Linked DNA regions of Homo sapiens: all the other regions are linked to region 2. The links come from fine-mapping of genetic effects on gene expression. A gene starts in region 2. Each other region holds a variant in brackets. All regions are shown on one strand. Distances are from middle to middle.

What was found. PIP is the estimated chance that this variant, and not a neighbour inherited with it, causes the effect.
Region 1: its variant is the best candidate, but not a certain one, in a credible set for the expression of TRIP4 in whole blood (TOPMed, PIP 0.63).
Region 3: its variant is the best candidate, but not a certain one, in a credible set for the expression of TRIP4 in monocytes after Pam3CSK4 (Quach 2016, PIP 0.59).
Region 4: its variant is the best candidate, but not a certain one, in a credible set for the expression of TRIP4 in lymphoblastoid cells after a statin (CAP, PIP 0.65).
Region 5: its variant is the best candidate, but not a certain one, in a credible set for the expression of TRIP4 in prefrontal cortex (BrainSeq, PIP 0.86).

What each region holds. Positions count from the first base shown.
Region 1 is chr15:64,138,492-64,143,594 of GRCh38, forward strand. It overlaps SNX1 (sorting nexin 1), which reads left to right. Exons shown (of 15, transcript NM_003099.5): 15 at 1-5,103. Among named protein-coding and RNA genes, the nearest start is that of SNX22, 11 kb to the right of the region's middle. The variant G/A (reference allele first, on the strand shown) is at 2,123.
Region 2 is chr15:64,385,426-64,390,512 of GRCh38, forward strand. TRIP4 (thyroid hormone receptor interactor 4) reads left to right here and starts at 2,411. Exons shown (of 13, transcript NM_016213.5): 1 at 2,411-2,539. The coding sequence starts at 2,439. It also overlaps a transcript of PCLAF not described here. RefSeq lists enhancers at 2,126-2,626, 2,208-2,697, 2,627-3,127.
Region 3 is chr15:64,589,645-64,594,747 of GRCh38, forward strand. All of the region lies in intron 2 of ZNF609 (zinc finger protein 609), which reads left to right. All of the region lies in intron 4 of LOC101930091 (a long non-coding RNA gene), which reads right to left. It also overlaps the pseudogene RPS26P50. Among named protein-coding and RNA genes, the nearest start is that of OAZ2, 110 kb to the right of the region's middle. The variant TAA/T (reference allele first, on the strand shown) is at 3,111.
Region 4 is chr15:64,796,278-64,801,380 of GRCh38, forward strand. No RefSeq gene overlaps it. Among named protein-coding and RNA genes, the nearest start is that of RBPMS2, 23 kb to the left of the region's middle. RefSeq lists an enhancer at 2,985-3,887. The variant C/CTT (reference allele first, on the strand shown) is at 2,131.
Region 5 is chr15:64,717,759-64,722,861 of GRCh38, forward strand. It overlaps LOC124903507 (a long non-coding RNA gene), which reads left to right. Exons shown (of 3, transcript XR_007064679.1): 3 at 308-2,811. Among named protein-coding and RNA genes, the nearest start is that of OAZ2, 17 kb to the left of the region's middle. RefSeq lists an enhancer at 309-809. The variant G/GT (reference allele first, on the strand shown) is at 2,859.

The sequences.
Region 1 (5,103 bases), 250 kb before region 2:
CTGTGTGAAGGTGTGAAGGTCTGATAATGACTTGATGCTTTGTCTCCATAGACATGAAAGCCATGCCCTCTGCCTCTAGATAGGGTGATCCAAGAGCTCCTGAACCTTAGGAGGTTCAAAGAAGCTCTACTGTCTGTGCCCAGGAGGTAGCCTGCCAGCAAGAGCCCTCAGGAGTTGCACACACAGCCAAAGGGTGTTCACACAGATCTCTGCCGGTCTAGCCAGGGGAGGCCAGAGTCTCGTCAGTCAAGGATGGGCTTCCCCCTTAGCTGTGTCCACAGCTGCTCAAGCTATACTGGTCAGAGTGGGCTTTGAAGCTCCTTTGTGAGCTCGAGCTGCTGACTGCCACTATGGGAGCCTTGCCACCTCCAGCCCCTCCATCCCAAAGACGCTCCTGCCACTGGGGCCCCAGGTCCTGCTGTATCAGTTCTCTTTGGTGGGGGGCTAAGGTTTGGGGCGAGGCAACCTGAGACAAGAAAACGCAGTAAACATTCTGATTCCCTGTACACAGATGCAGCACCAGGGGAAGGGCCAGTGGTGCAAGTATTTCTTTTTAACAGGTGAAGTTTTTGGAAAAAGTCACTCTCCCTACCCCTCAGTATCCTTACCATCAACTTTGGTTTTATCCTTCCAGTCTTTATTATATGCTTGCTTTTACATAGTTGTAATAATATACACATAAAGTATTTTGTATCCTGCTTTTATCATTCAACATTGTACATGTTATAAGCATTTTACTATATTGTTATATATCTTCACAAAGTTGATCTGTAAAGCTGTGTAATTTGAAGGCATCCATAGGGTGACTGTACCATAATTTTGATTCATCCCTTGTTGTTGGATTCTTGGTCAGGGGTTGTTTGTTTTGTTTTATTGGTAACTTTAAAATTTTGAATACAATTTCAGATTTACAGAAAAGTTGCAGGAATATCACAAAGAACTCCTATATATCTTTTATCCAGATTTACTGAGTGTTTACATTTTATCCCATTTGCCTTATCTATATTTCATGTTGCATTTTCTTAATCATTTGAGAATAATTTGCACAGATACCCCATTATGCCCAAAACAGTATGCATTTCCCTAAGAACAGGACATTCTCTTCTAAGAGAAGAAGAGAATTACTTTAAGCATTATTCAGTATTTTTTTAAGTATTATTATCAAAATCAGGAAGTTTAACAGTGATTTAATACTGTTATCTAACCCATGATTCATATTTAAATTTTGCCATTTATCCCAATAATGTCCTTTGTAGCCATTCTTTTACCTTGTGCAGGATCATGTTACATTTGTAAACGTGTGTCTCTCAATACTGCAGATTCCTCAACTTTCTTTTGTCTTTCATTACCATGACATTTTTGAAGAATACAGGCTATTTTGTCGAATGTTCCTCAGTTTGGATTTGTGTGATGGTTCCGCATGACTAGGTGAGGGTTTTGCATTCTGGGTGGGAATATCACAGAAGCAGTGTGTCGTCAGTGCGTCGTAATCAGCATATAATGTCAGTTGGTCCCATTAATGTTGTTAACTCTGTTCACCGCTTAGGTTGGTGTCTGCCAGATTTCATTTTAAATTTACGATTTCCTCTTTGTAATTTACAAGTAATTTGTGGGGAGATACTTTGAGACTATATAAGTATTTTGTTCCTCATTCACCAGTTATATAGTATCAGTTGATTAGTCTTGTCCCAGTTATTACTGTCATGATTGACCAACATGATTTCCTAACTCCATAATGCCTTCTACATTTATTGGTTGACATTCTACATACAAAGAAAAACATCCTTTCTCACCATTTATTTATTCACTTGTTTATCAATATGGATGCAGGGATTCCTGTTTTACTCAGAGTTGCAAGCCATTGCTTTGATTTTATCTTGATTCTCAAATTGTCCCAGATTTATAGCGGCCTCTTGTGTGTTTGTAGCTTGCTCCCATCATGTTTTGAGTACTTTCTTACCTTCTGGCATAACAAGATGTTCCAGGCTCATCTTGAATGTTCCCTACCCTAGCCCTGGAATCAGCCATTTCTCCAGGGAGTCTTGGTTCCTTATAATGGAGAATGGTATTTATTTATTTTTATTTGATTTGATTATTATTACTATTTTTGAGACAGAGTCTC[G/A]CTCTTGTCGCCCAGGCTGGATTGCAATGGCACAATCTCAGCTCACTGCAACCTCCACCTACCAGGTTCAAGCAATTCTCCTGCCTCAGCCTTCCAAGTAGCTGGGATTACAGGTGCCTGCCCCCACACCCAGCTAATTTTTGCATTTTTGGTAGAAATGGGGGTTTTACCATGTTGGGGAGGCTGGTCTCGAACTCCTGACCTCAGGTGATCTGCCCACCTCAACCTCCCAAAGTGCTGGGATTACAGGTGTGAGCCACCATACCCAGCCAGAGAATGTTATTTAGAAACCAAGATCTGGGTGCCAAATGTGCTGCTTGTTACTGGAATGTCATTGCCTCTAGGCTCTCACCATACAGTGCAAAGAGATGATAGATAGATAGATAGATAGATAGATAGATAGATAGATAGATGATAGATATAGATAGATAGATAGATTGATTGATTTGTAGAAACAAGATAGGTTAGAGATACCTGACATAAATAGATACTAAAAATCATGAATTCACACTGATGCTTTGAGACCAGCCCTGTAGGTTTATTCCAGTCTGCCCCCTTTTCCATGTTGTTAACTCTTTCCTCCAGAGAGACAAAGATTTCAGGTTGCTTTGTTAAGTTCCATCTAATGATCATTCTGACGTAAGTCTGTTTTTCTTATTTCCTTGGAATGATGTCTCCTCTGGTTTCAGAACTTCCTCCTCTGCTTCCTGTATCCTGAGGCTGGCGGGGCCAGTTGTCTTTAGGGCTTGTGCATTTTTGTAAAGAGCTTGCACGTGTGGAAATCAAGTAGGCCAGTAGTGGGTTAGGGGTACTGAGCCAGAAGCCTCTACAAGGAATAACAGGAGCACAAAGGAAGAAGGTGGTATTCCAGCTGGGGACCCAGGAGGGAGGACTTTGTGGAGAACCTGATGCTTGAACTGAGTCTAAAAGGTGTAAAAGTGTTTGTTGCTTCTGCCTCCCTGTCTGTCTGGCAGGGTGAGGTAGGCGCATCTAGGGAAATGTCAAGTGGCTTGGTGTAGGGTAAAGTCAGTGAGGCCCATGGAGAAAAACGAGCAGGAGCCACATCACATGGGTGTCTGATAGGACCTGGGAGGCGCTTTCCACATTACCATTGTCGCTTCGTGATCTGGACACACCAGAAGGCGTGAGACTGGAGGCAGGAAGAGCAGCCAGGCTTATCCCTACCCTCAGGAGAGCTGAAAAGGGCAGGTATGGTGGGGCCAGAGCTCAGGAGAGTTTCGGAACCACTGAGATCGGTCCTTGATTTGATGAGAGGCTTGAGGGGAGAGGGAGGTAGCTAGGATGCCCCGCAAGCTTCTGGCCCAGACACTGGGCAGACAATGAAACCCTTTGTAACACATGAGGCAATAGGTTTGGGGCAGATGGGAGGGGAAGCAGTGGTGGGGGCAGTGAGTGCTGAAGGTGTTTTAAGAAGCGGCTCTGGGCCAGGCACAGTGGCTTATGCCTGTATTCCTAGCATTTTGGGAGGCCGAGGTGGGAGAATCACTTGAGCCCAAGAATTTGAGACCAGCCTGGGGAATATAGTGAGACCCTGTCCCTACAAAAATAAAAACAACTAGCTGGGTGTGTGGTGGTGCATGCCTGTAGGCCCAGCTACGCGGGAACATCACCTGAGCCCAGGAGGTTGAGGTTGCAGTGAGCTACAGTTGCGCCACTGCACTCCAGCCTAGGTGACAGAGCAAGATCTTGTCTCAAAAAAAAAAGCAGCTCTGGATGGGAAGGGAGGCCAGTTGCTTTAAGTAGGGGAGATAGAGTTAAAGGAGGCTTTGTTTTATTTAAAGGTGGGACAAACTTAAGCATGTTAATAAAATTCAGAGAAGAGAAAGAGAATGACTATCAGAGCCATGTTTGGAAGAAAATGGGGTCCAGAGCACAGGAAGGGGACCTGTGTTCAGAGGGTGCCTCACTGCTGAGGCCACAGGAAAGAATCTGTAGGTGGAGGGGAGGCCGAAGAGGGGAAGTTTCATGCTTGATAATTAAAATTTTCTGAGATAGGAATGTCATATTTACCTATTTAAGCCAAGTTTTTTTAGATAAAAGGTATGGAACCTGCTTTCCCCTTGGCTAGTTCAGCGTTTGGGCTCCGGAGTGCTGAAGATGAGGACTGGACTTCGAGCTGGTGTGATCCCAGTATTCAGTGTCAGTACTCAGTGACAAAATAAATGAGAGAAACGGGAATAAGAATTGTCGCCTACACAAAAATACCAGCAACTGTTAACTCTTCCCAGAAGATTTTCATTCTGAATGCTCCTGTAGCTAGGAACCCTAAAAAGTCTTTGAAGCAACTCAAGTTTTAAAAAAGGGGAGGAACTCCTGGAAATCTCAGGATGGGGCCAAGATGTGGCTGGAGAGTGTGTGGTGATGGAGGGCGTGTCTTTTGCCGAGCACACTCAGGGCCCACGGGAAGCCCATAGACTTCAAGGACATCAAGCCCCAAGGTGGTGGGATTTTCCCCACCAGTACTTGGCAGCCTAGGGGGAAGGGGAGGGCGGGAGAAGATAATGGGGATCCCTGGCTCCAAACATAGGAGGACACATCTGTGCTACAGTGCGCACATGCCTGGATGTACACTCTGTCTTTGGAGACACTGGCTAAGATTCTCTGCTCCATGTTTGGACAGGGTCGTGCCTGATCTGAGATAAATGGACAAGAACAACTGAAGCCTGTCTTCTGGTGCATGTGTCACCTGCCGATAACTGCATCTTGTGATAAAGTTGGGTGATTTACAGTCTCCACCAAATGCTAAACTCTGGGGTCTTACGCCTTTATAACTCCATGGGCCCCAGCAAAGGTTCAGGCTCAAAACAGGTGTCAAATAGATAACTGTTGAATGATTGTTCCCCAGTTGCAGGCTCTGCCACCTGGCGTTCATACTGTCTGTGAAAGGACCCAGCTCACCTTTCCCTCTTTATCTCCCAGTCCTTCCCAACAGCGCCGACACCTCATGGAAACTGATTGCA
Region 2 (5,087 bases):
GACCAGCCTGACCAACATGGAGAAACCCCATCTCTACTACAAATACAAAATTAGCCGCGCATGGTGGCACATGCCTGTAATCCCAGCTACTCGGGAAGCTAAGGCAGGAAAATCGCTTGAACCCGGGAGGCGGAGGTTGTGGTGAGCCAAGATTGCACTATTGCACTCCAGCCTGGGCAACAAGAGGAAACTCCATCTCAAAAAAAGAAAAAGAAAAAAAAAAGAAAAAGAAAAAGAAATACCTAGATAACTTGTAAAGCATTGCTTCTGGGTGCCTTTGAGGGTATTTCCAAAGGAGACTGGCATGTGAGTCAGTGGACTGAGTGGGGCAGATCTGCTCTCAATGTGAGCGGGCACCATCCAATTAACCAAGGACCCAGAACAAAAAAGGTGAGAAAAAATATTTCTTCCTTCTGGAGCTGAGACACTCTTCTCAGACTTCTGCTCCCAGACATCAGAACTCCAGGCCCTCCACCTTGAGACTTGAAGATTTCACAACTTGGACTGAGCCAGCTACCAGCATTCCAGGGTCTCCTGCTTGCAGATGGCCTGTCATGGGTCTTTTCAGTCTCCATAATTTCCTGAGCCAATTCCCTAATAAATCTCCTCATAGATCTGTATCTATATCTATCTGTTATCTATCCTATTGGTTCTGTCTCTGGAGAACCCTAACACAGGGACTGAATAAATAAACAGGTAAATGACTTTGATACCTTACAATTATTATTAAATGTAGTGGAGTTTTACAAAGAAACAAAACTTGTACCCACAATTAATAAACATTCACAGAGTATTTTGACTTTTTCTTAAAAAAAAAAACCCTGGAAAATCATCTGCTTTCCAAATTAATGATATCTACGACAATCTAAATGGAATGTAAATCAATACACTTATGAGGTTTTGTTTTGTTTTTGTAAAAAGGCCTTGCTCTGTCGCCCAGGCTGGAGTGCAGTAGTGCAATCAGGGCTCACTTCAAGCTTGACCTTCCAGGCCCAAGTGATCCTCCCACCTCAGCCTTTCAAGTAGCTGAGACTACAGGCATGTGCCACCATGCCAGGCTAATTTTTTTCATTTTTGTAGAGATGAGGATTCTCCTTATGCTGCCCAGACTGGTCCGGAACTCCTGGGCTCAAGTGATCCTCTTGCCTCTGATTCCCAAAGTGCTGGCATTACAGGCATGAGCCACCACGCCCAGTGTGTGTGTGTGTGTGTGTGTGTGTGTTTGTGTGTGTGTCTCCGTGTGCGCTCGGGTGATCCTCCCGCCTCGGCCTCCCAAAGCGCTGGGATTACAGGCATGAGACACTGCGCCCGGCCAATACACTCATGATTTTAATTATAATATTTATGCCAATGAAAACACTAGCAAAAAGGTAAAACAGCTGCCAATTTAATGTGACCACTTAGTCTAAACAGGCTAGTAGAAATGAAGAACTTTTAACCTGCAAATGCAACAAAAAGCCAGAAATGAATGGGAAGACATTATGATCTCCAGAAAAGTTTGGCTAAATTTTCCCCAGCCCATTGTCTTAGCGGGGTAGGGAATTGCAGACAGCCCTTAAATACTGTCATTTTTGGTTGAGAACTCATGTGGAAAGTCCTCAAAGCCAAATTCCAACTCCTGTTTTACTGTTTTTTACCCTCGAGCTTGCTGAGTTGTCTTGGCTCTCCTGGAAAATACATGGCTCAAAAAATAAAATAGAAGTTTTAGCGGTGTGAATCTAGTAGTCGACTACAGGGGGTATTAAAAATAAACACTCCATCCCGGTTAACACGTGAAACCGCGTCGCTACTAAAAATACAAAAAAAATTAGCCGGGCGTGGTGGCGGGTGCCTGTAGTCCCAGCTACTTGGGAGGCTGAGGCAGGAGAATGGCATGAACCCGGGAGGCGGAGCTTGCAGTGAGCCGAGATCATGCCACTGCACTCAAGCCTGGGCGACAGTGCGAGACTCCGTCTCAAAATAAATAAATAAATTAATTAATTAATTAAAAAATTAAAACCACCACCAGAGCAAAAACTTACAGCGCTTACAATACCTTCCACGTGCTGTTTTATTTTACATAAAACCATGACGATTAAAAAGCTGGCCTCTCAGCTTTCCGGGTATTGGTTTGTTTTCCCCCTAAACTGTCGTTTTTATAGGCACTTGCACTGTCTTCTTAGCAGAATTGCCAATGGCCTTCCTCGAGTCCTACGTTTAGCGATTGGCAAGAATCATGCACTGACAGAGCTCGACTCCGGAGGGCACAAGGAAGTAGACAACAAAGCAGGAAGAAGCAGGAGGCGCACAGATGGGCGGGATCTGCACTGGAGGCGGTGCGACCTTGCGGGGCGGTGCAAGCTGGCGGAACCCGCGTGAGAGAGGTTGGTGTTGCGAAGGGAACTAGTCCGGTGCAGGACGTGGGGCTTTTGCAGCTCAGCTGGTTCCGGCTGGGGAAGATGGCGGTGGCTGGGGCGGTGTCCGGGGAGCCGCTGGTGCACTGGTGCACCCAGCAGTTGCGGAAGACTTTCGGCCTGGATGTCAGCGAGGAGATCATTCAGTGAGAACAGTTCGGGTCCAAGCGGGGAAGGAGCTCTGGGATGTGCACTGCCTGAGCGAACCGGGAAGCGGGGAGGACTGAAAAGTTAAGAGAGAAATGTGATAAAGGGGCTGCAGTCTGTAGTCTGTAGGCGTCGAATTTTGGCCTCCACCTTTGTAGTTTAGTTTCTGGAATAGGGTGTCCGGCTCCACAGTCTGCCGGTCGGGCTTTTTTCCTGGGAAGACGCCCAATCTGTAATAATTAGAAATGCAAGGCTGTCCCAGGAGCCAGTTTCCTTTCTAGAGAGAAGGGGCAGGTCAAACTGTATTTCCTAACTTTGAACCCCTTACTCTTTTATTTATTTATTATTATTGTTGTTATTATTGAGACGGAGTCTCTGTCGCCCAGGCTGGCGTGCGGTGGCGCGATCTTGGCTCACTGCAACCTCCGCCTTCCGGGTTCAGGTGATTCACCTGCCTGAGCCTCCCAAGTAGCTGGGATTACAGGCACGCACCACCACACCCGGCTAATTTTTAAAAATTTTTAGTAGAGTCAGTGTTTCACCATGTTGGCCAGGCTAGTCTCCAGCTCCTGATCTCAAGTGATCCGCCCGCCTCGACCTCCCAAAGTGCTGGGATTACAGGCATGAGCCACCGCACCCAGATATACTCTGAACATTTTAGTCGGCCCAATCTGAGTTGTGTCAGTAGAGCCAACAGGGTCAGCTGTGTCAATAGGACCTAGAATTTAAGTGGAAGCAGCGTGGTAGAGTACAAATAGCTTCTGACTCTGGAGTCTCAGGTTCTATATTCTGTTGTCGTTTACCTGTTTTAGAACCCAGGACAACTTAATTTTTCTCTCTGTACCCTGGTTTCTTCATTTATAAGATTAATCATTAGTAGAGCTTATCATGCTTTATGACTCCTATGAAATGGAGATGGTGTACATGACTTAATATCTACTTTCAACTGATTGAAGAACATTTGTTGCGCTGCTGTTACACGCCAGGTGCTGGGGTAACAAAGACAAGACAGTTGGGTTCCCCTTCGTTGATGAGTGCTGAGGTTGGGGAAATGAAGGGGCTTGTTGGAGCACAAAATAAAGGATTCTCATTAAGATTTGAAAAACTCGGAAGGTTTATTGGAAAGGATAACTTTCACCCGAGAACTAAGGAATAGACAGAGGTGGCGGTCCAAAGTGTTCAGGCAGGGGAGAAAACTACAAAAATGGGACTTGATCGAAGAACTGAAAGTGTTCCTTCATTTGATTCCTTGGTCACTGATGTTGAAACCTAAATTGCTGTTCTAGGGCTTTTGTAGGAAGTAAGATGAGTTTCTGAGTTTCGGAGAAAATAGACTTTTGGCAAGGAGACAGTTCAAGTAGGTTATTTTAATGGATTTTTTTGAGGCCCTAGGAGATGGCTCAAGCCCTTATTCCCAGCACTTTGGGAGGTAGAGGTGGGAGGATTGCTTGAGACTGGGAGTTGGAGACCACCCTGGGCAACATAGTGAGACCCTGTCTCTACAGAAATAAAAAAAGTAAACAACAAGATAAAGGATTTTTTTTAACACTAGAATAGACAACAAAACAAAACAGCGAAATCTTATGGTTTGGCTTTACCCTTGCTTGAACGCAGTCAGATTAAGTATTTAGTAGTTTTCAAACATTTTTTAAAGCAGTGGAATGCTATCAAATGAAATAATGAAACTTTGCAATATATAAAACAGAAAAGTGTTTTTTACGAATATAAGTTCAAAATTTTCACTTTTTTTTTTTTTTTTTTTTGAGACAGATTCTGTTGCCCAGGCTGGAGTGCAGTGGTGCGATCTCAGCTCGCTGCAACCTCCGCCTCCCACGTTCAAGCGATTCTCTTTCCTCAGCCCGAGCAGCTGGGATTACAGGCGCGCACCACCATGCCTGGCTAATTTTTGTATTCTTACTAGAGATGGGGTTTCACCATGTTGACCAGGGTGGTCTCGAACTCCTGACCTCAGATGATCCAACCGCCTCAGCCTCCCAAAGTGCTGGGATTACAGGCATGAGCCACCACGCCTGGCCCAATTTTCACATATTTATTGTAAATATGTGTAATATATTAAATATCAAATATATTAAATATTAAATATATCAAATATTATATTAAATATATTAAATATTAAATATATCAAATATTATATTAAATATATTAAATATGTGTATTATATTAAATACAGTATTAAAAAAAAAAGATTGAGGTGGCCAGGCGCAGTGGTTCATGTGTGTAATCTAAGCACTTTGGGAGGCCGAGGCAGATGGATCATTTGAGGTCAGGAATTTCAGACCAGCCTGGCCAACATGGCGAAACCCCCACTCTACTAAAAATACAAAACTTAGTCGGGTGTGGTGGAGCGTGCAGGTCATCTCAGTTACTCGGAAGGCTGAGGCAGGAGAATCCCTTGAACCGCGGGGCAGAGGTTGCAGTGAGCTGATACCGCACCACTGCACTCCATCCTGGGTGACAGAGTGAGACCTCGTCTCAAAAAAAAAAAGGAAAAAAGAAAGATTGAGGCTATTTTTGATAAATTAACAA
Region 3 (5,103 bases), 200 kb after region 2:
CTTTACTTCTATTTGAATAGTATTTCTTTCCTTATCTCATCTGTTCTTAACCAAGGCCCTCCTTTACTTCTTCCTAAAGTAGTCCACATCTGTGGAGCTTCTCAGGAATATACTTTTTTGTGAGATTTTTCTATAAGATTAAAATTATAAATTAAATGGCTAAAAATTTTTACATACTGTAAACAGACCCAGACAGTTAAAGAGATTATAGAGATTTGGCAGGAAAAACTCGATGCTTTTGGAAAGCTCTTGATAGTATTCACAGATAAGCGATAGTGAAAATTGAGACTAATGGATACTGGTAAAAAATTAGATGTGGTATGGTTGATCATACTTGTTGTGATTAAAGCTAAAACATTATTCAAGTTTGCTAGAAAGTTGAAGAGCTGAATTTGGGCTGGATGGAGAAGGTAAGAAAAAAACACACTGCACATGGTCCTCATTTATGAACTTAAATCTTTCCTGGCTGCCAACTACTTGCTGATTAGAAATCTGAACTCCCAACCTGTATACTAGGAAATCTAGCCTTTTATTGTCCTGGTTTAAGAAGGATTTAAATTGTGCTCAGTATTGAAGTTTTTGGGTCGGAACTATTTTAATATTATCTATGAATAAATATAAGGTCATACATATTAGTAGGGGAGAGAGCGTATGGGATAAATTGATCTCTCTCTCTCTTTTGCTCTTTATTTTGAGAGAGGGGTTCTTGCTCTGTTACCCAGGCTAGAGTGCAGTGGCATGATATCAGCTCACTGCAACCTCTGCTTCCTGGTTTCAAGTGATTCTACTGCCTCAGCTTCCTGAGTAGCTGGGATTAAAGGTGTGTGCCACCACACCCAGCTAATTTTTGTGTTAGTAGAGTTGGGGTTTTGCCATGTTAGCCAGGCTGGTCTTGAACTCCTGGCCTCAGATGATCCATCCACCTTGGCCTCCCAAAGTGCTGGAATTGCCCACGTGAGCCACCTGGCCTTCATATATAGAAAATATATATTTATTTTACATACACATAACACACACACACATATACATGCATATATATATATGTATATATATATGTATCTGGGTTTAGAGTAGTCATGTAACCCAGGAAAGGAATCCAGAAATCAATATAGACCTCCTTAAGATAAGAGCAGTAGCTTTCAATGTCAGTTTACAAGGTAATGGTTATACTAACCATAACCATTTTGTGTTTGTTGGCATTAAAAACAAACACAAAATGTTATCCCTTGAAGATAAAGACAAATAGGTTCAAAAGTAGAAAACTTTGTACATTTCTGATAATACCTTAAAAAGGTCCTGAGAAGAGTAAATAAACTACCCTGGAAATGTAGGCAATACCATAGAGTTTTCTTTAAGTTCCAGAAAGCCTGGAAGTTGGTTGAGTAGTATGTATCGAAAAGCCTTAAAGGCCGGGCATGCTCGTTTATGCATGTAATCCCAGCACTTTGGGAGGCTGAGCTTGGGAGGATTGCTTGAGCCCAGGAGTTCAAGACCAGCCTCCGAGGCCAAGTGCAGTGGCTCACGCCTGCAATCCCAGCATTTTGGGAGACCAAGGCTGGCGGATCATGAGGTCAAGAGATCGAGACCATCCTGGCCAACATGGTGAAACCCCGTATCTACTAAAAATACAAAAATTAGCTGAGTGTGGTGGCATGCACCTGTAGTCCCAGCTACTCAGGAGGCTGAGGCAGGAGAATCGCTTGAACCCAGGAGACAGAGGTTGCAGTGAGCCAAGATCGCGCCACTGCACTCCAGCCTGGGCGACAGAGACAGACTCTATCTCAAAAAACAAACAAACAAACAAACAAAAACAGCCTCCTCAACAAAGCGAGACCCTGTCTCTATAAAAAATGTTTTAAAAAAAGCCTCAAAATGTGCATACCCTTTTACTTGCTTATATGTAGGACTTCACCCTATGAAACTAGTGAAACAGGTGCAAAGATATTTCTCTCAGCCAGGCATGGTGGCTCATGCCTATAATCCCAGCACTTTGGGAGGCTGAGGTGGGTAGATCGCTTGAGCCCATGAGATTGAGAACAGCCTAGGCAACATGGTGAGGTCCTATCTCTACTAAAAATAATTTTTTTTTTTTTTTGAGACAGAGTCTTGGTCTGTCACTAGGCTGGAGTGCAGTGGCACGATCTCGACCTACCGTGCACCGGGTTCAAGTGATTCTCTTGCCTCAGCCTCCCAAGTAGCTGGGACGACCGGCACACACCACCACGCCCAGCTAATTTTTCTATTTTCAGTAGAGATGGGGTTTCACCATGTTGGCCAGGCTGGTCTCAAACTGACCTCAGGTGATCCGCCCGCCTTGGCCTCCCAAAGTGCTGGGATTGCGAGTGTCAGCCACCACACCCGGCCTTTTTTTAATCAGCTGGTGGAATGTGCCTGTGGTCTCAGCTACTTGGCAGACTGAGATAGATCACTGGATCACTGGAGCTCTGGGGGTCAAGGCTGTAGTGAGCCATGATTACATCACTGCACTCCAGCCTGTCAGCAGAGGGAAGACCCTGCCTCAAAGAAAAAAAAAAAAAAGATATTTCTCTCAGCCTTGTTTATACAAGTGAAAATTAGGACAACCTAAATATCCATCTATAGTTAATTGGTTAAATGAATCGTGGTTGGTTTGTTCAAAATAATTCTATTCAGCTGGGCATGGTGGCTCACGCCTATAATCCCAGCACTTTGGGAGGCCAAGGCAGTTGGATCACTTGGGGCCAGGAATTTGAGACCAGTCTGGCCAACTTGGTGAAACCCCATCTCTACTAAAAATATGAAAATTTAGCCAGCTCTGGTGGCAGGTGCCTGTAATCCTAGCTACTTGAGAGGCTAAGGCACGAGAATTGCTTCAACCCAGAAGGTGGAGGCTGCAGTGAGCTGGGATCTCGCCACTACACCCCAGCCTGCATGACAGAGTGAGACTGTCTCAAAAAAATAATAATGGTAATAATTCTGTTCAAGCATTTAAAATTATGTTTTAAGTTGGCCAGGCATGGTGGTTCACGAGGCCCGCAATCCCAGCATTCTGGGAGGCCAAAGCAGGCAGATCACCTGTGGTCAGGAGTTCAAGACCAGACTGGCCAACATGATGAAACCCCATTTCTACT[TAA/T]AAAAAAAAAAAAAAAAAATTAGCCCGGCATCTGAAATACCAGCTGCTTGGGAGGCTGAGGCAGGAGAATTGCTTGAATCTAGGAGGCAAAAGTTGCAGTGAGCTGGGATCGCGCCACTGCACCCCAGCCTGGGCAACAGAGCAAGACTCTTGTCTCAAAAAATTACATAAATAAATAAAATAAAAATAATGTTTTTGCTCTCTCCGGTCCGTGCCTCCAAGATGACAAAGAAAAGAAGGAACAATGGTCGTGCCAAAAAGGGCCGCGGCCACATGCAGCCTATTCGCTGCACTAACTGTGCCCGATGCGTGCCCAAAGACAAGGCCATTAAGAAATTCGTCATTCGAAACATAGTGGAGTCCGCAGCAGTCAGGGACATTTCTGAAGCGAGCGTCTTCGATGCCTATGTGCTTCCCAAGCTGTATGTGAAGCTGCATTACTGTGTGAGTTGTGCAATTCACAGCAAAGTAGTCAGGAATCGATCTCGTGAAGCCCGCAAGGACCGAACACCCCCACCCCGATTTAGACCTGCGGGTGCTGCCCCACGTCCCCCACCAAAGCCCATGTAAGGAGGTGAGTTCTTAAAGACTGAAGACAGGCTATTCTCTGGAGAAAAATAAAATGGAAATTGTACTTAAATAAATAAATAAAAATAATGTTTTAAGTTATAGCTAATTGACACAAAAATGTTCACGATGCAGTGAAATTCTGATAACCTTTCATAGTCTGAAAAATCTAGTTGTTCTAGGAGAAATAAGTCATCCAGAATGTTCTCTTGTTTGTTTTTGAGACAGGGTCTTGTTCTCTCGCCCAGGCTGGAGTGCAGTGGTGCAATCACAGCTCACTGCAACCTCCGCCTCCCAGACTCACGTAATCCTCCCACCTCAGCTTCCCCAGTAGCTGGGACTACTGGTGCGTGCCACCATACCTGGCTAATGTTTTATATATTTTTTGTAGGTACAGGGTTTCACCATGTTGCCCAGGCTGGTCTCAAACTCCTAGACTCAAGTGATCCACCTGCCTACAGTGCTGGGATTACAGGTGTAAGCCACTGTACCCAGCCATTCCAGAACATTCTGATGATTCAACCATAACTCATTTCATAGTATAATTGAGTGGATAAGAAGGGTTGGTGTTTGCTGTCTCGCCATATTAATAGTTTTGTGTTGGAACTCCTTGACTGTCAATCAAGTATTATGTTTGAGGAAGATGTAAACATTTAATACTTTTAAGATTAGGAGAGGTTTGAAGGGTTTTATGTCATGAACACACATATTAAGGAAGAAGCATGGCTCTGCCCTCTTGAAAGACTAAAGAAATATTCCATCAGCAGTTTACTTTAGAAGAACTGAAAGAATAGGTTGATACTGAACCCACTCCCAGAGCCAGGTAGCTGAAAGGGCACTGTGATTGTTATCTTACTAGGAACACGTGGAGTGGGAGTAAGGCAGTTTTCTGCAGAAAAGAGGGATTCTGGGCAGACAAAAACTACATATGCACTATGTTTTGTTTTGTTTTTTTTGTTTGTTTGTTTTAAATTAAAACCAGAAAAGGCGAAGACTTGGAGAATGCTCAAAATTTTTTTTTTTTTTTGACACGGGGTCTCACTCTGTCACCCAGGCTGGAGTGCAGTGGTGTGATCTCAGCTCACTGCAACCTCCACCTCCTGAGCTCAGGTGATCCTCTCACCTCAGCCACCTCAGTAGCTGGGACTACAGGCTCTTAACACCACATCTGGCTAATTTTTTTTTTGTATTGTTGGTAAAGACCGGGTTTCACCATGTTGCCCAGCCTGGTCTCTAACTCCTGAGCTCAAGCAGTCTGCCTGCCTCAGCCTCCCAAAGTGCTGGGATTACAGGCATGAGCCACTGCACCTGGTCACAAAATGTAAAGATTTTGAGGGCCATTGATTTTAAACTCCAGAAGCTGGTCCAATCAGAATGAACGTAAGGATTTTTGTTAGTGTGATTAGAAAAGAATGTGTCTCGGC
Region 4 (5,103 bases), 410 kb after region 2:
ATAAGCCACCACACCTGGCCCTTCTTTTCTTTTCTTTTCTTTTGAGACGGAGTCTCACTCTGTCATCCAGGCTGGAGTGCAGTGGTGCAATCTCAATTCACTGCAACCTCTGCCGCCTGGGTTCAAGCGATTCTCCTGCCTCAGCCTCCCGAGTAGCTGTGATTACAGGTGCTTGCCATTCAGCCTGGCTAATTTTTGTCGTTTTAGTAGAGATGGGGTTTCACCATCTTGGTCAGGCCAGTCTTGAACTCCTGACCTCGTAATCCACATACCTCGGCTTCCCAAAATGCTGGGATTACAGGTGTGAGCCACTGCACTGGGCCTTTTTTTTTTTTTTTTTTGAGATGAAGTCTCACTCTGTCACCCACGCTGGAGTGCAGTGGCAAAATCTTGGTTCATGCAACCTCCACCTCTTGGGTTCAAGCGATTCTCCTGCGTCAGCCTCCTGAGTAGCTGGGACTACAGGTGCGCGCCACCACACCCAGCCGATTGTTTAATATGTTCAGCAGCAAGCGCGTTTCACCGTATTGGCTAGGCTAGTCTCAAACTCCTGACCTTGTGATTTGCCTGCCTCGGCCTCCCAAAGTGCTGGGATTACAGGTGTGAGCCACCAGGCCCCGCCCTCTTTTCTTTTTTAATAGAGATGGGGTCCCTTTCTGTTGCCGAGGTTGGTCTCAAACTTCTGGGCTCAAGCGATCCACCCGCCTCAGCCTCACAAAGTGCTGAGATTACGGGTGTGAGCCACCGAGCCCAACCAAGTATTTTTTCGTGTTTTGTTTTTTTTAATCATGAATGGGTTTTGTATTTTGTCAAATGCTTTCTTTATGTCTTTTGAGATAATCATGTTTTCTTATTCTATTAGTAAAATATATTACATTGATTGATATTTGGATGTTAAACCAACCATGCATTTCTGGAATAAATTCCACTTGGTCATGGTATAATTTTTTGTATATGTTGCTGGAATTGGTTTGCTAGTGTTTTGTTGTTGTCTGAGACAGGGTCTCACTCTGTTGTTCAGGCTGAAGTGCAGTGGTGCAATCATAGCTGACTGCAGCTTTGAACTCCTGGGCTCAAGCGATCCTTCCTGCCTCAGCCTCCCAAGTAGCTGGGACTACAAGTGTGGCCGCCATGCCCAACTAATTAAAAAAAATTTTTTTTTTCTAGACACAAGATCTGTTGCCCAGGCTGGTCTTGAACCCCTGGGCTCAAGCAATCCTCCAGCCTCAGCCTCCCAAAGCACTGGGATTACAGGTGTGAGCCACTCAACCTGGCCACTTTCCTGGTATTTTGCTGAGGATTTTTGCATCCATATTGATAAGAGATATTAGTCTATAGTTTTCTTTGAGATGGAGTCTAGCTCTGTTGCCCAGGCTGGAGTGCAATGGCACAATCTTAGTTCACTGTAACCTCCACCTCCCAGGTACAAGAGATTCTCCTGCCTCAGCCTCCCTAGTAGCTGAGATTACAGGTGGGTCACCATGTTCTGCTAATTTTTTTGTATTTTTAGTAGAGATGGGATTTCATAATGTTGGCCAAGCTGGTCTCGAACTCCTGACCTCAAGTCCCAAAGTGCTGGATTACAGGCATGGGCCACCATGCTTCACCTTGAGTAGATTTAAATTGATTGGTTTTTATTTTTCTTAGGGGTCATGTTTTCCTGTCTCTTTGTATACATGCTAATTTCTGTTGGATGTCAGACACTGCCAATTTTACTTTGTTAGGTACTGGATTTTTTTTCTTTTCTTTCTTTATTTAAAATTTTTTCTTTTTAATTTCTTGTAATACTCTCCTATCCAATGGAGATTTTGTTTGTTTGTTTGTTTGTTTTCAGACGAAGTCTCACTCTGTTGCCCAGGCTGGAGTGCAGTGGCGCAATCTCAGCTCACAGCAACCTCTGCCTCCCAAGTTCAAGCGATTCTTCTGCCTCAGCCTCCTGAGTAGCTGAGACTACAGGCACACACCACCACGCCCAGCTAATTTTTGTATTTTTAGTAGAGATGGGGTTTCACCATATTGGCCAGGCTGGTCTCGAACTCCTGACCCTGTGATCTGCTTGCCTTGGTCTCCCAAAGTGCTGGGATTACAGGCATGAGCAACCGCGCCCGGCTGATTCTTTTTTTATATATA[C/CTT]TTTTTTTTTTTTTTTTACTTTTTTTTTTTTTTATTGATCATTCTTGGGTGTTTCTCACAGAGGGGGATTTGGCAGGGTCATAGGACAATAGTGGAGGGAAGGTCAGCAGATAAACAAGTGAACAAAGGTCTCTGGTTTTCCTAGGCAGAGGACCCTGAGGCCTTCCGCAGTGTTTGTGTCCCTGGGTACTTGAGATTAGGGAGTGGTGATGACTCTTAGAGCATGCTGCCCTCAAGCATCTGTTTAACAAAGCACATCTTGCACTGCCCTTAATCCATTTAACCCTGAGTGGACACAGCACATGTTTCAGAGAGCACAGGGTTGGGGGGTAAGGTCACAGATCAACAGGATCCCAAGGCAGAAGACTTTTTCTTAGTACAGAACAAAATGAAAAGTCTCCCATGTCTACTCCTTTCCACACAGACACGGCAACCATCCGATTTCTCAATCTTTTCCCCACCTTTCCCCGCTTTCTATTCCACAAAACCACCATTGTCATCATGGCCCGTTCTCAATGAGCTGTTGGGCACACCTCCCAGACGGGGTGGTGGCCGGGCAGAGGGGCTCCTCACTTCCCAGTAGGGGCGGCCGGGCAGAGGAGCCCCTCACCTCCCGGACGGCGTGGCTGGCCGGGTGGGGGGCTGACCTCCCCACCTCCCTCCCGGACGGGGCGGCTGGCCGGGCGGGGGGCTGATCCCCACCTCCCTCCTGGACGGGGTGGCTGGCCTGGCGGGGGCTGACCCCCACCTCCCTCCCGGACGGGGCGGCTGCCGGGCGGAGACGCTCCTCACTTCCCAGACGGGGTGGCTGCCGGGCGGAGGGGCTCCTCAATTCTCAGATGGGGCGGCTGCCGGGCGGAGGGGCTCCTCACTTCTCAGATGGGGCGGCTGCCAGGCGGAGGGTCTCCTCCCTTCTCAGACGGGGTGGCTGGGCAGAGACGCTCCTCACCTCCCAGACGGGGTCGCGGCCGGGCAGAGGCGCTCCTCACATCCCAGACGGGGCGGCGGGGCAAAGGCGCTCCCCACATCTCAGACGATGGGTGGCCGGGCAGAGACGCTCCTCACTTCCTAGATGGGATGGCGGCCGGGAAGAGGCGCTCCTCACTTCCTAGATGGGATGGCGGCCCAGCAGAGACGCTCCTCACTTTCCAGACTGGGCAGCCAGGCAGAGGGGCTCCTCACATCCCAGACGATGGGCGGCCAGGCAGAGACGCTCCTCACTTCCTAGACGGGGTGGCGGCCGGGCAGAGGCTGCACTCTGGGCACTTTGGGAGGCCAAGGCAGGCGGCTGGGAGGTGGAGGTTGTAGCAAGCCGAGATCACGCCACTGCACTTCAGCCTGGGCACCATTGAGCACTGAGTGAACCAGACACCGTCTGCAATCCCGGCACCTCCGGAGGCTGAGGCTGGCGGATCACTCGCGGTTAGGAGCTGGAGACCAGCCTGGCCAACACAGCGAAACCACGTCTCCACCAAAAAAATACGAAAACCAGTCAGGCGTGGCGGCGCGCGCCTGCAATCGCAGGCACTCGGCAGGCTGAGGCAGGAGAATCAGGCAGGGAGGTTGCAGTGAGCCGAGATGGCAGCAGTACAGTCCAGCTTCGGCTCGGCATCAGAGGGAGACCGTGGAAAGAGAGGGAGAGGGAGACCGTAGGGAGAGGGGGAGGGGGAGGGGGAGAGGGAGAGGTACATTTTTTTTTTTGAGACGGAGTTCCGCTCTTGTTGCCCTGGATGGAGTGCAATGGCGTGGGTCTCAGCTCACTGCAACTTCTGCCTCCCAGGTTCAAGCGATTCTCCTGCCTCAGCCTCCTAAGTACATGGGATTATAGGGGCCTGCCACCAAACCTGGCTAATTTTTGTATTTTTAGTAAAGACGGGGTTTCTCCATGTTGGCCAGGCTGGTCTCAAACTCCTAAACTAAGGTGATTTGCCTGCCTTGGCCTCCCAAAGTGCTGGGATCACAGGTGTGAGCCACCATGCCCGGCCAAATTATATTATTAATATAATGTTTTGGAGACAGGGCCTTGCTCTGTTACCAGGCTGGAGTGCAGTGGCATTATCATAGCTCACTGTAGCCTTGACCTCCTGGGCTCAAGTGATCCTCCTGCCTCAGCCTCCTAAATAGCTGGGACTTCAGGCACTTGCCACCTGTTTTACATTTGTTTACATTTACATTGTAAAACAGGCACATGCCTGCCTGTTTTACATTTGTTTTTGCAGAGACAGGGTCTCACTATGCTGCCCAGGCTGGTCTCAAATGATCCTTCCACCTTGGCCTCTGAAAGTGCTGGGATTACAAGTGTGAGTCACGGTGCCCGGCCCTGGAAATTTTCTTTAGGCAGCAAGGTGGGGCATTTGTAGGGTTTTCCTCATTTGTTTGCTGACTCTCTGGAATCACTATTTTTCATCTTATGGGTTTCAATGTCTTGAGAACCATGTTTCACATACTTTGGGGAGTATTTTAGTTGTTTTTAGGTGGGAATGTAAATCATCTTGTCTAGAAGCAGAAATCCTTACAATCATTTATTAATTTCTTTAGCTGGCATTTATTGAGGAAGAGCTTAGTGTGTGCCCACCTTCCATTTGTCTTACAACTCTCCAAACACTCCAAATTTTCCTGCCTTGGGGTCTTTGCACAATTTTTCCTTTGTCTAGAATGGTCTTTCTAGCTCTACTTTCCTCCCTCAGCTCAAAGGGGCCTTCTCTGACTACTCTATGTAAAGTGAATCACTCTCTTTTTAATTTCCCATCACATTTCTGCTTTATTTTACAGCTTCTTCTACTAGAATAGAGCCAGACTTTTTTTTTTACTTTTTTTTTTTTTTTTGAGACGGAGTCTCGCTGTGTCGCCCAGGCTGGAGTGCAGTGGCGATCTCTGCTCACTGCAAACTCCGCCTACCGGGTTCATGCCATTCTCCTGCCTCAGCCTCTAGAGTAGCTGGGACTACAGGCGCCCGCCACCACGCCCGGCTAA
Region 5 (5,103 bases), 330 kb after region 2:
TACCAACCCTTGAGTCAGGATCATGGTTGGGGGCGGAGGGAGGAACTGGCTTCTAGAGGCAGCAAAAGACTTGTGAGGAGCCCTGCCCCTTGGCTCACAGGGCAGGAAGCGCCTGGCGGAAGGTGAAGCAGTTGAAAGCACTAGAGCTGGAAGTGAGTGAGGGGTAGTCCTGCCTGGGGCGTAGGGTTCCGGTCCCAGGCAAAACATTATTTTAGACCAACAGGAAAAACAAAAGTAATGGTTCCCACCAACTTCCCAGCTCCAGGAAGCTGGGCATGACTAGTGATTTTTTTTTCTGTTCCTCTAGCCTGTGAGCATTTCCACTCGTCTGCCAAGGCAGAGACAGCCCCATCCAGAAGCAAGAATGAGACCTCGGGGCCCTGGCGCCCTTGAGCCAACCCCATCTCTGTTCTCACAACTTGCCTTGCCTGACCTCTGGAGAAAAACTTCAGAAAATATCACCCTTTCTTCCCACCTGCTCCCGCTGGCCAAAATCCCCATCAAAGCCTGGCTTCAGCCCCTCAGACTGGGAACTCTATCCAAATGGAGTGTGGGGAGTGTGGGTGAGGAAGGACGGAAGGAAGTAGGTCACACGCTGGCTACCGCACAACGGGGAAGAGGCCAACCTCGGAAAGGCAGAAGAGTGGCCGCCATGCCGAGCTTCCAGAGATGGAGAGAAGGTCTAGGAAGCCACCTTGGGGAAGCCGCCTGAGCAGGAGCGGGGCAGCCAGGGATCAGAGCCCACGGCCTGCTGGGGACCCATCCTGGGCACGGGGCTCTGGGCTCTGTGCCCATTCTCTGATGTGCCACATTGTTCTGCTACTTCCTTCTCTGGAAGTAATAAGGGGGTTGGGGGTGGGACAGCACGGCCAGGAGTAGATGGAGCGGGGTGGAGCTGCCAGTGGGGGAGGAGGCTGCGGTTCATTCCCACGACCAGCTGCCCTTCTGGCCGCCCTGGGACTGCGTGGGAAAAGGTCTGGGAAGTATGGGGGATGGTGTGTGTGTGTGTGTGTGTGTGTGTGTGTGTGTGTGTGTGTGTTTTCATGTGTCTGACTCCCTTGCTTGGCTTCAGTCACAGGACAAAGCCCTTTGAGAAACAGTCACCAACCTGTGTTCCCACTGGGCTCTGTCCTGGGAGAGGCACAAGAACCCGCCCTGACGCCTGAGAGAAAGACTCTGAAGGCCTCAGGACCAAATCCCTGGAGGGGTCTTGGCGTCTAATGAATCTAGATTGACTGACTTCCCTGGGATGCTTCTGGAACCTTCTGCTAAGCCCTCAGCTTCTTGGCAGAGCTCTATTACTAACTGGATATCAGAATATGGGTGCAAACTAGACATGGGGAGTGAAGTCAGCCATTCTCACAGCATCTACCTAAGAAGGCCAGGATCCTCCACAGCCACGTAGATCGTAGAGCCAGTGGCATGCCGGGGATGATATACAAAGACAAGAAACTCTGAAACAGAGAACACAAACTAACAGCCCATAGGCCAAATGCAGCCCGCAGGCACATGGCTTATTTGGCCAACACAGCATTTAAGAAATGTTTGAGCCGAGGCTGGGTGAGGTGGCTCAGGCCTATAATCCCAGTACTTTGGGAGGCCGAGGCAGGTGGATCACCTGAGGTCAGGAGTTCAAGACCAGCCTGGCCAACATGACAAAACCCCGTCTCTACTAAAAATACAAGAATTAGCCAGGTGTGGTGGTCCATGCCTGCAGTCCCAGCTACCCAGCTGCTTGGGGGGCTGAGGCAGGAGAATCGCTTGAACCTGGGGGGCGGAGGTTGCCGTGAGCTGAGATCACACCACTGCACTCCAGCCTGGGCGACAGAGCGAAACTCCGTCTCAAAAAAAAAAAAAAAAAAAAAATCCCAATTTCTACAGTCTCTTGAAAAATCAGACGATATGGCTAACATTGATGCATATGGCCCCAGGACCACAGCTGATGGGGCTGAATAATGACCACCCTTTAGAAAGACCTTGGACTGTCCATTTTGCCACTGTCCACACCACTCTGTATTGTCTCCAGCAGTGAGGCCGAGTATGAGTTGCTGTTGCTCATCACACTTGAATGGTTATTACACTGTTTTCTGTACCCTCGTCTCATTCAAAAGTGGGGATATGGCCAGGTGTGGTGGCTCACGCCTGTAATCCCAGCACTTCGGGAGGCCGAGGCAGGTGGATCACTTGAGCCCAGGAGTTTAAGACCAAACTGGGCAACATGGAGAAACCCCATCTCTACTAAAAAAAAAAAAAAAAAAAAGTGGGGACACGAAAGAAACTAAGAGGGCCACTGTTTGTAGCGAGCACATTTCTACCCCAGCCAGGCCTATCTATAAGCAAATAAAGATGGGATTTCATGTCCTCCCATCAGCTTTTCTGCACCCTCCCTTCTACCTTCCAGTGGCACAGTGCTTAATGACAGCTGCTGACAATACAGTGTCACAGGCCTTGCGCCAAAATTACCCCCAACTCCTTCCCTCACTCCCAAATCACAACTCTTATTATCTAAGTGAGCAACCCCAGTTGCAAAACACAAAGGAGTAATAAGTCCTGTAGAAATTCTCAGCTCCACCCCAGCCCCTGGTTGCCAATGACCCTGTGAAGAAGCTAAAACTCCTTAGCTCGGACATTCTGTCACAGAGAGACCTGCAGCATGTGCCAGATGAACTTGCATCAACTGAAAACCAAGGTCACCTCTGGAGACCAGAAATGGAAGTGACAGTCCCAGGCCTATTCATAAAGCTTCAGTTTTTTACAAGGAGATTGTAATCATGCAAAACTTGCGTAATTAAAATTAATAATAAACAGAAATGCCTCAGCCTAGTTCCTGTGAGTCTGACCCCAACTTACATTTCCAG[G/GT]TTTTTTTTTTTTTTTTTTTTGAGACGGAGTCTCACTCTTGTCACCCAGGCTGCAAGCTCCGCCTCCCGAGTTCACACCATTCTCCTGCCTCAGCCTCCTGAGTAGCTGGGACTACAGGCACCTGCCACCACGCCCAGCTAATTTTTTTTTTTTTTTTTTTTTTTTGTATTTTTAGTAGAGACAGGGTTTCACTGTGTTAGGCAGGATGGTCTCGATCTCCTGACCTCGTGATCCACCTGCCTCGGCCTCCCAAAGTGCTGGGATTACAGGCGTGAGCCACCACGCCTGGCCTTTTTTTTTTTTTTTTTTAAGACATGGTCTCACTCCAGTGCCCAGGCTGGAGTGCAATAGCGTGATCTCAGCTCACTGCAACCTCCACCTCCTGGGCTCAGGTGATACACCCTGCCTTAGCCTCCTGAGTAGCTGGGACTACAGGTACATGCCACCATGCCCAGCTACTTTTTGTATTTTTTGTAGAGATAGGGTATCTCTCTGTTGCCCAGGATGGATACATTTCCAGTTTATCTCAGATTACTCCCTTCCATGAACAAGTCCACTCACAGAACCCTCTTTCTCCTACAAAGAACGTCTTTCTCCTCCTCCTTTGTCAAGCAACCTCTAGCTCATCTCTCAAGACTGTAGTCTTTCAATAATTTAGCTCATGCATACCCTAAACATTTTTAAAAATTATGTACCCCTTCAATAAAGCTTGTTTTAAAAGTGAAGTTTTTAGGCTGGGCATGGTGGCTCACGCCTGTAATCCCAGCACTTTGGGAGGCCGAGGTGGGTGGATCACCTGAGGTCAGGAGTTCAAGACCAGCCTGGACAACATGGTGAAACCCCGTCTCTACTATAAATACAAAAATTAGCCGGGCGTGGTGGCAGGTGCCTGTAATCCCAGCTACTCGGGAGGGTGAGGCCAAAGAATCGCTTGAACCCAGGAGGCGGAGGTTGCAGTGAGTAGGGATCACACCATTGCACTCCAACCTGGGAGACAAGAGCAAAACTCTGTCTCAAAAAAAAAAAAAAAGGGGAAATTTTAAAATTTGATTTAAAAAAAATTTTAACCATGTTTAAATAGTTGCAAAAGGCTGGGCACAGTGGGACATATCTGTAATCCAAGCACTTTGGGAGGCTATGGTGGGAGGATTGCTTGAGGCCAGGTGCTCAAGGTTACAGTGAATAATGATCATACCACTGCATTCCAGCCTGAGTGATAGACTGAGACCCTGTCTCTACAAAAAAATATAAAAACAGTTTCGAAGGATGTGATTTCTTTGCAATTTTTTTTTGTATTAGAAATATTGAAGCTGGACACAGTGACTCATGCCTGTAATCCCAGCACTATGGGAGGCCGAGGCAGTGGGCAGATTGCTTGAGGCCAGGAGTTTGAGTCCAGCCTGGCCAACAAAGCAAAACCCCATCTCTACTAAAAGTACAAAAATTAGCCGGGCATGGTGATGCGTACCTGTAATCCCAACAACTCAGGAGGCTGAGGCATTAGAATTGCTTGAACCTCGGAGGCAGAGATTGCAGTGAGTTGAGATCAACCCAGTGCACTCCAGCCTGGGTGACAGAGTGAGACTCTGTCTCAAAAAAAAGAAAGAAAAAGAGGCCAGGTGCAGTGGCTCACGCCTGTAATCCCAGCGCTTTGAGAGGCAGAGGCGGGCGGATCACTTGAGGTCAGGAGTTTGAGACCAGCCTGGCCAACATGGTGAAACCCTGTCTCTACTAAAAATACAAAAAATAGCCAGGCGTGGTGGCGTGTGCATGTAATCCCAGCTGCTTGGGAGGCTGAGGCAAGAGAATCGCTTGAACCCAGGTGTCGGAAGTTGCAGTGAGCCAAGATCATGCCACTGCACTCTAGCCTGGGCGACAGAGTGAGACTCCCTCTCAAAAAAAAAAAAAAAAGAAAGAAAGAAAAAAAGAAAAAGTAAGCTGTTCTTTAGCACAGGAAATTTTACATCACTCCTTTTTCTCCTTGAACTTGTATTTTCTTTTTACTTCTCTCACATAATGCTTTCCTAATACAATATGTACTTTATCCCTTTTTTTTTTTTTTTTTTTTTTTTGAGATGCAGTCTTGCTGTGTTGCCCAGCCCAGGCTGGAGTGCAATGGCACAATCTCAGCTTACAGCAATCTCCGCCTCCCGGGTTCAAGCGATTCTCCAGCCTCAGCCTCCCCAGTAGCTGGGATTATAGGTGCCTGCCACCACGCCCAGCTAATTTTTGAATTTTGAGCAG